Linked DNA regions of Homo sapiens: region 2 is linked to region 1. Evidence: fine-mapped expression QTL. A gene starts in region 1. The other region holds a variant in brackets. All regions are shown on one strand. Distances are between the middles of the regions.

Region 1 (5,369 bases):
GCAACTGGTTCAAAACTAGAAAACCTCCTCTTTTGTGACTGCACAGTACAATGTCCTGACTTCTGCTACTAAACCACTCCCCACCTTAAAGTACCACTCATTTGTTGGTAATTCTGCCTCATCCTGCAACTTATGTGGCCCCCCACCCCCATGCCAAAGGACAGGGACACAGCGTGCTCATCATAGCAGCCCCCAAACCCAGCACAGAGCCTGGCATACAGCTGCCTGTGATAGATGTGTGCTGAGCACACGCCAGGATAAGAAGAGGCAGGAGAGGAGGAGGGACAAAGAGTGCACAAAGAAAGAAACAGGTCTCTTGTCCCAGATCCCTGGTGTAAACTAAGAATAAGCAAGCTTAAGGTAATGAGGGTCGAAGCAAAACAGAGAAAGTTCATGTCCCTGCAGGTATCATTAACTACATCACAGGGAGCAGAACCACCTAGGGAAAAAGAAGAAAAGCTCTCCAGATCTATGGGCAGGGGCTGAGTGAGAAAAGTGATCTGGTGCTATTAAAGGTGGTTTGAAGTCATCAATCTGGCCTCGCCACCTCACTGCCTGACCCTCTCCAAGAGTCCTCACACCCACAAGATTCTACCCCACCCAGCCCCTACACACCTCCCTAAACTTTATCCCTCCAACCTCCACATACTTTGTGCTCAAATTATGCCAAACTCACACAACGTGCTGTGTCATTCCTCTGAGCCTGTTTCATGCAGTTAACCTCTACCTGGAATGCCCTTTCTACCTACTGACAAACCTGTTTATCCTTCTCAGCTCAGCTCTGTTATGTCCTCCTCCTCCAGGGAGACCTCAGGCTCCCATGACACCCAGTGCACTGAACCCTCTTAGCCCTATGCACACCTCACATCCTGGTCCAATGATGAGTGAACTCCTCTCCCCCCAGAGAGTAAATTCTATCTCTCTCTACCCATAGCACCTAACACACTGCCTGAGCACACAATAGGTGCTAAATAAATGCTTGTTGAAATCGACAAAGCATTGGCAAGATTCCAGAACATAAGTGCTAGAAGACTTGGTTAAAAAGGGGAAACCGAGAGGCAACTTGATATACTGGAAACCCTGAGCGTGGAGGCTGGAGTTCAAACCAGTAGAACGACTTAAGGTACGTGACTTAAAGACCCTGAACCTGTTTTCCTGATCTATGAAACAAGCATATTACCACCCAACTCCTACAACTACTTATGAGGAAGGCACCTACTATGCACCTGGCACACAGTAGGCCCTCTGTACTGTACTTAACTGGTGAGACGCCACCTCCCGCCCACATCTTCCTGTTTTTCAGTCTCCCATTTCCGACCATAAGCTCCTCCAAGGCTTTTGCCCAGACCCCTAGACGACTGTTCTGGACCCAGTTTATAAAGACTGCCTGGCTGGCCAGGAAATCCCCCAGAGGCCTCCTTCCGTGTCCCCGGGCCAAATCTGTGAAGAGAAAACGGAAGGCTACCATGTCACGAAAAACTATGATCAAATAAATTATTATGCCTTTTCTCCTATTGATCTGCCTTTTGTCAACTGATTTTCAGTGAACCTTCGGAGAGCCATGGGGAAGTTTTCCCTTTCCCCCTACAGGGCTCTGAATCTGAAGGTAAGAGTGAGCCTATAGGGGGAACCTTCTGGCTCCCTCACAGGAACTGACTGAGCAGGAGTTGGAAAAGCCACTTGGATTCCCATTTCCTCAACTCCCCGCCAATACCAAGGCGTCTGTTTTTACAGGCTCTTTCGTGGTGTTCTGGGCACATTCAACTTCCAATGCAGCTGAGAGGGTCGGGAACAGTTAGAGAACAGGGGTGGCAGCCGCCCGGGAGGCTGCAAGGCGCTCGCCCGCAACGCACAGGCGCGCGCGGCGCACCCGGCCTCCGGCCTCCCCAGGTCGGGCCTGGCAGCTGCGGGAAGGAGGTCAGCGCAGCCGCCACACTTCGCCCGGGCGCTGGCCCGACCCGACCGCCGGCGACTCTCTGGCAGCGCCCGGAGACCGCCAGCCCCTGGGCCGCCCGTCCGCAGAGCCCCCTCCGCCCCGGGACCCTCGCGCGCAGCTCAAGTTGGGAGCCCCGCTCCGCAGGCGAGCGCGCGCCCACCACCCACACCCACTGCCACTCATGCACACCGCGGGTCCGGAGATGCCCCCGAGCGTTTTAAAATCCAGAAACATCACATGGTAGCCACATCCGGCGGCTGTTACCTGCTCGCAGCACCCAGACCCTCGCCCTGGTTTCCCGGGAGCCCGCAAACCCGGCACGCGGGCTGCGCGCCCTCCCGCAAGCCACCGCTCAGCGCCAGCGCGCCGGCAAGCCGCCTACCTTAGGGGTCTGCACTTCAGGTCCCGTCGGCACCTCCAACTTCCTCTTGGTTACCCAGAAGAACAGCAGCACCGTGATCCAGAGCACCCCGAAGACTGGCAGAACCAGCCGACGAGTCAGGCGCCGCATGGTCCCCTTTGCCGCTTCCTCTCCGCGGCGCTACGTCCCGGGGGCACCCCCCGGCGGTCAGGGTTGGCGGGGCAGGAGTCCTGGCGAGCGCCTCGCTCTGGGGAGCTCTAGACCCAGGATCCGGTTGGAGGGGCGGCAGGATCCTGCAAGGCGCCCTTCCCGCTTCGAAGAGAAGCGAGCCTGGGTGGGGGGTGCAGGGCGACCCGAAACGTGGCAGGGAAGGACCGAGGGCAGCCAAGCTGGACGCCCGCTCCAGCGGGAGAAGCGCGGTGGCTGCCGAGATGTTCCCCACGCCGCCACCGCGGCTGCCGCCGCCGCCGCCGCCGCCTTGCCCGCTGCCGCCGATAGGGAAACTGACTCGAGCAGCGAGAGGGAGGAATCCGAGGCTGTGCCAAGCACCCCGGGAGGAGCACGAGGGCGGAGGGAGTGAGCGGGGAGGGCGGGCCCGACAGACAGGCCGACTCGGAGCGAGCCCAGGTGGGAGTGAGCGGGGCTCTGAGAGGGGGCGCTACCGCCGCCCGCCGACCGAAACGCTCGGTGCTGTTGCGGGGCCGCCAGCGCCAAGCCCTGGGCGCAGCTCCCAGACCATCGTGGGTTGGGGCAAGGCGGGGCGGGGCGGGAGCGGTGCACTCGGGATGCCCGCCACCCCCAGCTGCCAGCTGGGACCCAAGGGCCGGCCCTCGCCAGGCGGCGCTGTGCCTGGGAGGACTTTCCCGCTCATCGCGGGGGCTGCACGTGGCGCTGAAGCCGGGGTCCCACCCCCAATGTGCTCGTCCTACCACAGCCAAGGCTGGGATTCCAGGGCGCCGGCAGGGCTGCTGCCCCAAACCCGCGGTTCACTTGCCTGGCTACTGAGGGCCAAGGCCGCGGTCAGCCAACTCCCCAGGGTGTTTCTATGCCTGCCTGCAGGTGCCTGGTAACTTTTTCTGCTTAACGGAAGGAAAGCTGAGCTGGTCTAATTTTAACTTTAAAGATATCCTTTAAAAAATTAAGGCGCAATTATCTCCCATAAAGGTTTTCTCTCCCTGTAAGCATCAGGGCTTTGTGCTTGCAAGAAAAGAGGTCCAAAGTTGGAACAACCACTTGGGATTCTTGGAAAGTGACCCTGGGCAGGAGGATACTGGGTGCAGAGGGTGATCTTTCAAAAGCCCCTTTTCCCAAGGGCCTTTGGGAATTGTATCCCCCTCCCACTTGCAGATTAAAACCGCTTGGATCTAGAAGCAAAGCAAATTCTAACTCCAATTCCCATGTAGGCTCAAGTAGGCTGGAATCACGGCCAGATCACTGACCAGAGAGTACTGACCTAGCTGTCACACTCACTGTGTGAGTCTTGGGTAAGTCATTTACCTTCTCCCAGTCTTCGATTCCTCATCTGTAAAATGGAGGGAAAATACCTCCTCTGACAAGCAAATGAGTAGTGGTGAAAGCTGAATGCAAGGTGCTGGTGTTATCTGACCACTCAAAGTGGGGAAACCTTGCTCTGTCTGGGGAGCAGAGGCAGCGGGAACCATGCCATTTTTGTTGGAGGGTTGCTTGCTTCATCGAGTTTCTTGGGGAGGTGAGAACGATGCACCCACTGTGGCAGCCACCATTCTCCCTGCCCCTCTCTCCCCATAAAGCTCAGTGTAGGGCAAGCTCCCATACCTCCGCACAGGTGAGACAGCTGTAAATCAGGGCTCTGGAATTCCTTCTTCAATAAGATGTCTCCCCAAAGACATGTACTGAGAAATGGAGGCGTCTACTCAAAGCCTCCTGTTTTTGGTACCTTATCTTTCAGCCACAGGGAAGTCCTGCCTCAACCTCAGAGAGTTCTTGACTGGACTGTAGATAAGATGTTTGGGGTTGGGAACCGCAGTTGAAATTAAACAGCCCAGAAAAGGTGAGCACTGTTGCCAGCCCTTTCAAGATCTACCTGCGCTCTTAGACCATCACACAGAACCCCAGGGTTGATCTAGCATTTGCCTTTATCAGAACTCTGAACACTGAAAGGTGGGAGTAGGCTCCCCAGCCAATGCTTTGTCCCAGCAAAGGCCCAGGTAGATGATCATCATGGGAGGGGTAGGGGGAGCAGCAAGAGAACTCACCTCTGCAGCATCCCAAGCACCTTGGACCTCTTTCAGGAGCCTCACCCGGGACCTGCAGTTTCGGGCCTGCAAAGCGTTCTGCTGCAGGCTCTGCAGGGGACCCCCAGGCAAGCTGCTGAGCTGCTGTTGGCTCCAGGCAGAAGCTGCAGCACAGGAGTCCATTGCTCAGCGCTTTGTAATGCCGCTTCTGAGTAACAGATGGCAGACAGTTACACAAGAACACCGCCAAGCTTTTGAGATGGTGCAGCACCACCACGCTGCTCACCACACTGCTGAGATGCTGAGGTGCCTCATTCTGACTGTTTGGCATATGGGGAAACTGAGGCCCTGGGGTGAAGGCAGCTCCGTGCAGGGACTGCAATGTCTCAGAGAGTGGGAATTTCCTTCCAGGAATGATTTTCTTCTCAAATCATTATTTTGTCCTCTACTCAAGTGAGGAAGATTTCCTGGGCCTATGGAAGCTGTCAAGGGAATCCAGTTTTGCTAGGTGTCATTAGCTGATCCATCCAGAGATCATATCAGATATCAGTTTGGGTTGTCAAACCAGTAAATATCATTAGGACTGAAGTAGATTTCAAGTGGGACTTCAAACATCTGGAAGTGAAGTGAGTGTCCATGCGGGGCCTAGTTCTGTAGGTCTCTCCAGGAACCCAGTCTATCCAGGGGTCCCCCATGCTCAGGAATATATTTGAAACGCTTTAATAACCAGCTTTAAGCCTGGGCAACATAGCGAGAGCTTGTCTCTAAACAACAACAACAACAACAAAATAGCCAGGCGAAGTGGCAGGTGTCTCTAGTCCCAGCCAATTGGGAGGCTAAGACAGGAGGATTACTTGAG
Region 2 (5,369 bases), 68 kb after region 1:
TGGGGACAAAGATACAGAATATAGGTGTAATCAGTGCTATCCCAGAAGATCTGGGATACAGAATTCTGTCCTTTGTATTTCTCATTCCTTCTTATAGCTCGTGTAAGTCAGAGCCCTGGAGAACTCTGTGTAGATATTGAGAAATAGCACTTATACCAAAAATGCCTTTTCTTAGAGTTTCTATTAAAAATGGAAACACTTTTATAGGAGGTATTTTCAGTTTTCCTAGATATCTTCTCTTTCGCTTTTTTCTCCCCTATTCCTCCTTCTTATTCCTGACCCCTAATATGATGTTCTTTTTGGCTTTTCCTGATGCGATGCAGCCTGTGATGGGGTGGTAGGGGGGTTGTCTCTGCTCCGTGGCAAGATTTATATTCTCAGTCTTTGCGCGGACACAGTTTCCCCAAGTCAGATGTAGAACAGAGTCTCTATGTCAGCAGTTCCCAGGATTTTCTGAGAGAAGTAGGATCTTGGCTGCCATGTAGTTTAGGAGGCTCACTGCAGAATTTTACACACAGTAGGGACTTCATAAGTCTGGGGCTGCAGGTATCGATGGTGATGGGTGAGTAGGGAAGAGAAAAGGAAAGTCTGTGGCACAGGCTTACACTTTACCCTGTTCACTAGCTGTGTTCCTGAAATCTTGTAGGTAAATCAAGTTTCAGGGAGATGGATTACATTTGAACACATTAAGAAGTTGCTTTTTAAAGGAATTGATGCATTTTATAGAGTGAAGAATACTTTTGTAAAGTGATTAATAGCTTCTTAATTTAAATGTTTCATGAACCTGTTTTGGGGGTAGGAGGTTGGAGAGATGTTAAAATTTATCTCTCTGGCAGATGGTATTGGCTGTGACTCAGGAAGCCTTGCCATCTCAGATGAAGCTAAACAGTACCTTGATATATTTTTGGCTATAGCTGTTCTGCATATTTCTGGGCAGGACTGAGGGAGGGCTACATCTTAGACCATTCTCAAAATCACCCTTGGTTTTTTCCATCTGGAAAGTGAGAATGTGGGAACATACCCATCCCTTCTCATGGAGATCAATGACAGTAAGACCTGGTGTGATATTGTGAAATATATATTTGGTCTTCATTTGCTCAGTTTTCTGACATTCAGCTCCTAAAACCTTGGGAACCTCTAGAGTGATAAGAGTGTCCTTCGTATGCTAATGATTGACTGGTGACTGGTGGTCCCTAGGTAGCTTCAGGATAGGGTCTGGTCATTGGAAAGACCAAGGCAGGATTAGAAGGTTGGGAGTTTCAGCCCCACCCCCTGATCACTGGGGAGGGGAGGGAAACTGAAGGTTAAATTGATCACCAAAGGCCAATGATGTAATCAATCATGCCTAGGTAATAAAGCCTCTATAAAAACCCAAAAGGACAGGGTGTAAGGAGCTCTGAATATCTGAACACACGGAGGTCCCTGGAGGGTGCCACAACCAGGGAGGGCATGAGAGCTCCACACCCCTTCCCCATGCCTTGCCCTGTGCATCTCTTCCACCTGGCTGTCATCTGCATCCTTTGTCATACCCTTTAAAATAAATCATTAAATGTAAGCGAAGCATTTCCCTGAGTCCTGTGAGCCTCTCTAGCAAATTAATCAAACCCAAGGAGGGGATCATGGGAATCACGGTCCTGATTTATGGCTGGTCGTGAGTACAGGTCACAACCTGGGACTTGTGATTGCCATCTGAAGTAGGGGCAGTTTTGTGGGATGAACACTCAACCTGTGAGATCTGACACCGTCTCTAGGTAGACAGTGTCGGAATTAAATTTCATTACAGAATACCCAGATGGTGGCCACCAGAGAATTGCTTGGCATGTGGGGAAAACCTCCTACACATCTGGTGTTAGAAGAGTGTGTTGTGTTGAGTGGAGAGGAGAGAGTAGGAAAAAGCCTGTTTTTTTCTCCCATATATCTTAGGCGCAGTATCTGAAAGCCCTAAACCCTGGGGAAGGAGGGTCTGGGCTGACACATTTTGCCTCACCGGGGGCCTCTTCCACTGCAGGCGGGGTGGCAGCTTCTGCAGCAGGGAGCCACTGCCGATGGAGCTCAGGGTGGCCGGGAAGCTGGTGTCTTCAAAGAGGCAGCCATTCCTCAGGCACTCTGCCAGCAGGGCCTCAAAGTCCTGTTGGGGTTGCTGTGGAGACGCCCTCCTAGAGTACCTTGGCGCCAGCTTCCATCTGCATCGGAAAGGTGGCCACAGAGACATGGCAGGTGGTGGGTACAGTCCAGTGAGTCTTCCTGAGGAGTCTCTGCTGCTCCTGAAATGGAGAGAGGACGGTCAGTTTCCTCACTTCCTCCTTGTGCTTTGCCATTGCCACAGAGACGAGGGGAAGGATGGAGAGAATGGGAGCGGAGAAGTCAGCTGGTGAGAAAGAGACAGAAGCAGGTGGTTCGATTTTGTCCCAGAGAGTGTGGGTCCTTGAGCACTCACTCAAGTGCTTGAGGACCTGGTGGGAGATCAGGGATCTTGTGGCAAAAGCCTACAGAAGGGAAAGTTCTCTCAAGCCTCAGGGCTGAGTCCTGGGCCCCTGACTGCACCAATGTCACGGGGGTCCCTTCTGCTTAGTGGGGAGGCAGGAGAAGAGAAGCAGGAAGCTGGAGCTCAGTCCCCTGGGCCGGAGGGTCCTGTGCCTGCCAAGGTAGTGGGGAGTAGTGGCTGCCTGCTCAGGCCTCCACCAGGCCTGCCAACTCCTGCCTCCCAGCTACAGACACACAGCATTCCTCCTGCTTCAATGTCCTCCTTATTCTTCCCTGCAAAACCTCCTCCTACATTATCTTTATTTTTTTTATTTATTTATTTTTTTTTTTTGAGACAGAGTCTCATTCTGTTGCCCAGGCTGGAGTGCAGTGGCGCGATCTCGGCTCAATGCAACCCCTGGCTTCCAGGTTCAAGCAATTCTCCTGCCTCAGTCTCCCGAGTAGCTGGGATTAGCAAGGCCGCAGGGGGTGCTGGGGGCCAGCAGCTCCCACGTGGAGGCCTCCCAAGGATGTCTCTCCCATCCCAGGAGCCCCCAGCTGCGCTCCGGGTCAAGGGTAAAACCCCAGGCTCCAGCACAGGGTGCGTGGGTCTCTCACAGAAGGCCCCCACGGGCGGTCACAGGCTCTGGCAGGGCTGCAGGTTGGC[G/A]TGGGCGAGCCGGCAGTGCATCAGATACAGACGCCCGCCACCACACCCAGCTAATTTTTGTATTTTTAGCAGAGATGGGGTTTCGCCATGTTGGCCAGGCTGGTCTCGAACTCCTGACCTCAAGTGATCTACCCGCCTTGGCCTCCCAAAGTGTTGAGAGATTACAGGCGTGAGCCACCATGCCCAGCCTACATTCTCTTTACAAAGAAATCCTTCCTTGAAGACTTTCTTGCTAATGTAAAAGGGGGACAAAAAAATCACACACACACATATTGTGCCAAATACCAACAGTTGCCAGTACGTGCCCATTCTCCCCTTTTCCTTGTTACCAGAATCCATTTTGATAACCCAGCTACAAAACTTGATTTCCTGGAGCTTCTTGCAGGACAGGTTGGCTACACAATATAGTTTTTCATTTTACAGTTGCAAAACCACTAATCTTATTAGCCTCCCCATTTTTCAGGTGTTACAACTGAAACCTGTCCATTCATTCACCAAAAATTTTACTGGGAACTTATCATTTGTCAGGCTTGAGGTAGGCACTGCTCACCAAAGACAGTCCCTGCCCTCATGGCTCTTACAGTTTAGAGGGTGGGAGAGCGAGAAGGGTTAAATGATCTTCCTGGTGCTATACAGGGAGATTTTATAAGGGCTGTATCCAGAACCCAGAGCCCTGACTCCCATAACAATGTTCAGCTCTCAGTGCTACAAACTGCCTATTACACCCCGCACAGTGTTTGGGACAGAATGTACATGCCCTAAAAGTAACTCGCAAATGTGCTTATACTGAGTGTGACTTCTCCCTCATGGCTGTAGGAGTGACCTGGGGTCCTCTCCATTTGTCAAGGTCCTGCCCATCCCCCAAAGTCTAACTTGAGTCCTTTCCCCAGGAAGCCCTCCTTGAGTGCCTGGCATTCGCTGAGATCCCCTCATTCTGTCTATGGACCCATTGTCTGCCCCATTGGGCACCTACTGTCTTGGTGCTTCTCAAATTATCACTAGTGAAGGGCCTATGTTCTTTTATTTCCGATTTGTCATAGAAATTTAATGAAAATGAATAAATACAAACATAACATTTTAAAAGATACATAAAGTCAAGTCCCCCTTTAAGATTTTTTCAGGTCAGGTGCAAGGGCTCACATCTGTAATCCCAGCACTTTGGGAAGCCAAGGTGGGCAAATCACTTGAGCCCAGAAGTTCGATACCAGCTGGGGCAACATGGCAAAACTTCGTCTACATAAAAATACAAAAATTAGCTAGGCATGGTGATGTATGACTGTAATCTTAGCTACTTGGGAGGCTGAGACAGGAGGATCACTTGAGCCGGGAGGTAGAGTTTGCAGTGAACAGAGATGGCGGCACTGCACTCCAGCCTGGGAAGCAGAGCAAGACTCTGTCTCAAAAAAGAAGTTAGATTCAACAAAAATTAAATTAAATTTAAATTATTTGATCAATTGCTATAAAAGTTTCTAAACACTTGCTCTCAGTTTTGTAGGTAGCTCATCAAGCACTGCCAGTGACCAGTTGGTGGAGTGGCCCCACTGTGGTTCTGCTCTGAGTGATGTATGCACAGAAGCCTCTTCTGCCTAATGGCTTTTGAATCCTCTGCAGGATTAGCACTGCTGGAATGTTGTTTGTCTCACACCCTTACCTCTGAGAGCTGAGGGCAGTCGATTCCTGGCTATTCTTATTTGTCACGGGTGCCTGTGTACTTCCTGGGGGAAGACCCAGCCCTCTTCTAACCCAGGTCACAGAAACTCAAAAGCTGTTACTCAGGTCTTTTATTTTTTTGACTCCAAAAAAAAACTCCAAAAAAAAACTGGAGTTTTTTTCCCTAATGTGGATGAGTAGGCAAAGCTTCCCCCAGGCTTACCCCATTTTCTTCCCAGGAAGTTTCTTCTACCACCTGCACATTTATAAACAAACTTGAGGCCTCACAAAGGCAAGGTCTCCCTTTTTGCCCCTTCAAGCCTTTACAACAATCTTTATTGCTTGTCCTGTGAAAAATGATAGAGGGTCCCTTGGCTTCAGAACCTCCCTCAGGCTCATGCCCTCCTTACCAAGTGCTGGGTCATACCTGGATTCCTCTTCAAGCCTGCAAATACTACATCTTGTGACAAGCACAGTACATCATGGGCTCAGAAGACAAAACACCCATCACAGGTTCCTCTCACCCTCCAAAGTTTAGAATGAGGCCACATGTGTGCGTGCACACACATACACACACAATCTTATTTGT

The links. PIP is the estimated chance that this variant, and not a neighbour inherited with it, causes the effect. A credible set is the group of variants that fine-mapping cannot tell apart.
Region 2: its variant is the best candidate, but not a certain one, in a credible set for the expression of GALNT14 in whole blood (TOPMed, PIP 0.79).

Annotation. Positions count from the first base shown.
Region 1 is chr2:31,135,640-31,141,008 of GRCh38, forward strand. GALNT14 (polypeptide N-acetylgalactosaminyltransferase 14) reads right to left here and starts at 2,801. Exons shown (of 15, transcript NM_024572.4): 1 at 2,319-2,801. The coding sequence starts at 2,447.
Region 2 is chr2:31,203,236-31,208,604 of GRCh38, forward strand. CAPN14 (calpain 14) reads right to left here. Exons shown (of 22, transcript NM_001145122.2): 2 at 1,988-2,264. The coding sequence starts at 2,212. Among named protein-coding and RNA genes, the nearest start is that of CAPN14, 12 kb to the right of the region's middle. The variant G/A (reference allele first, on the strand shown) is at 3,131.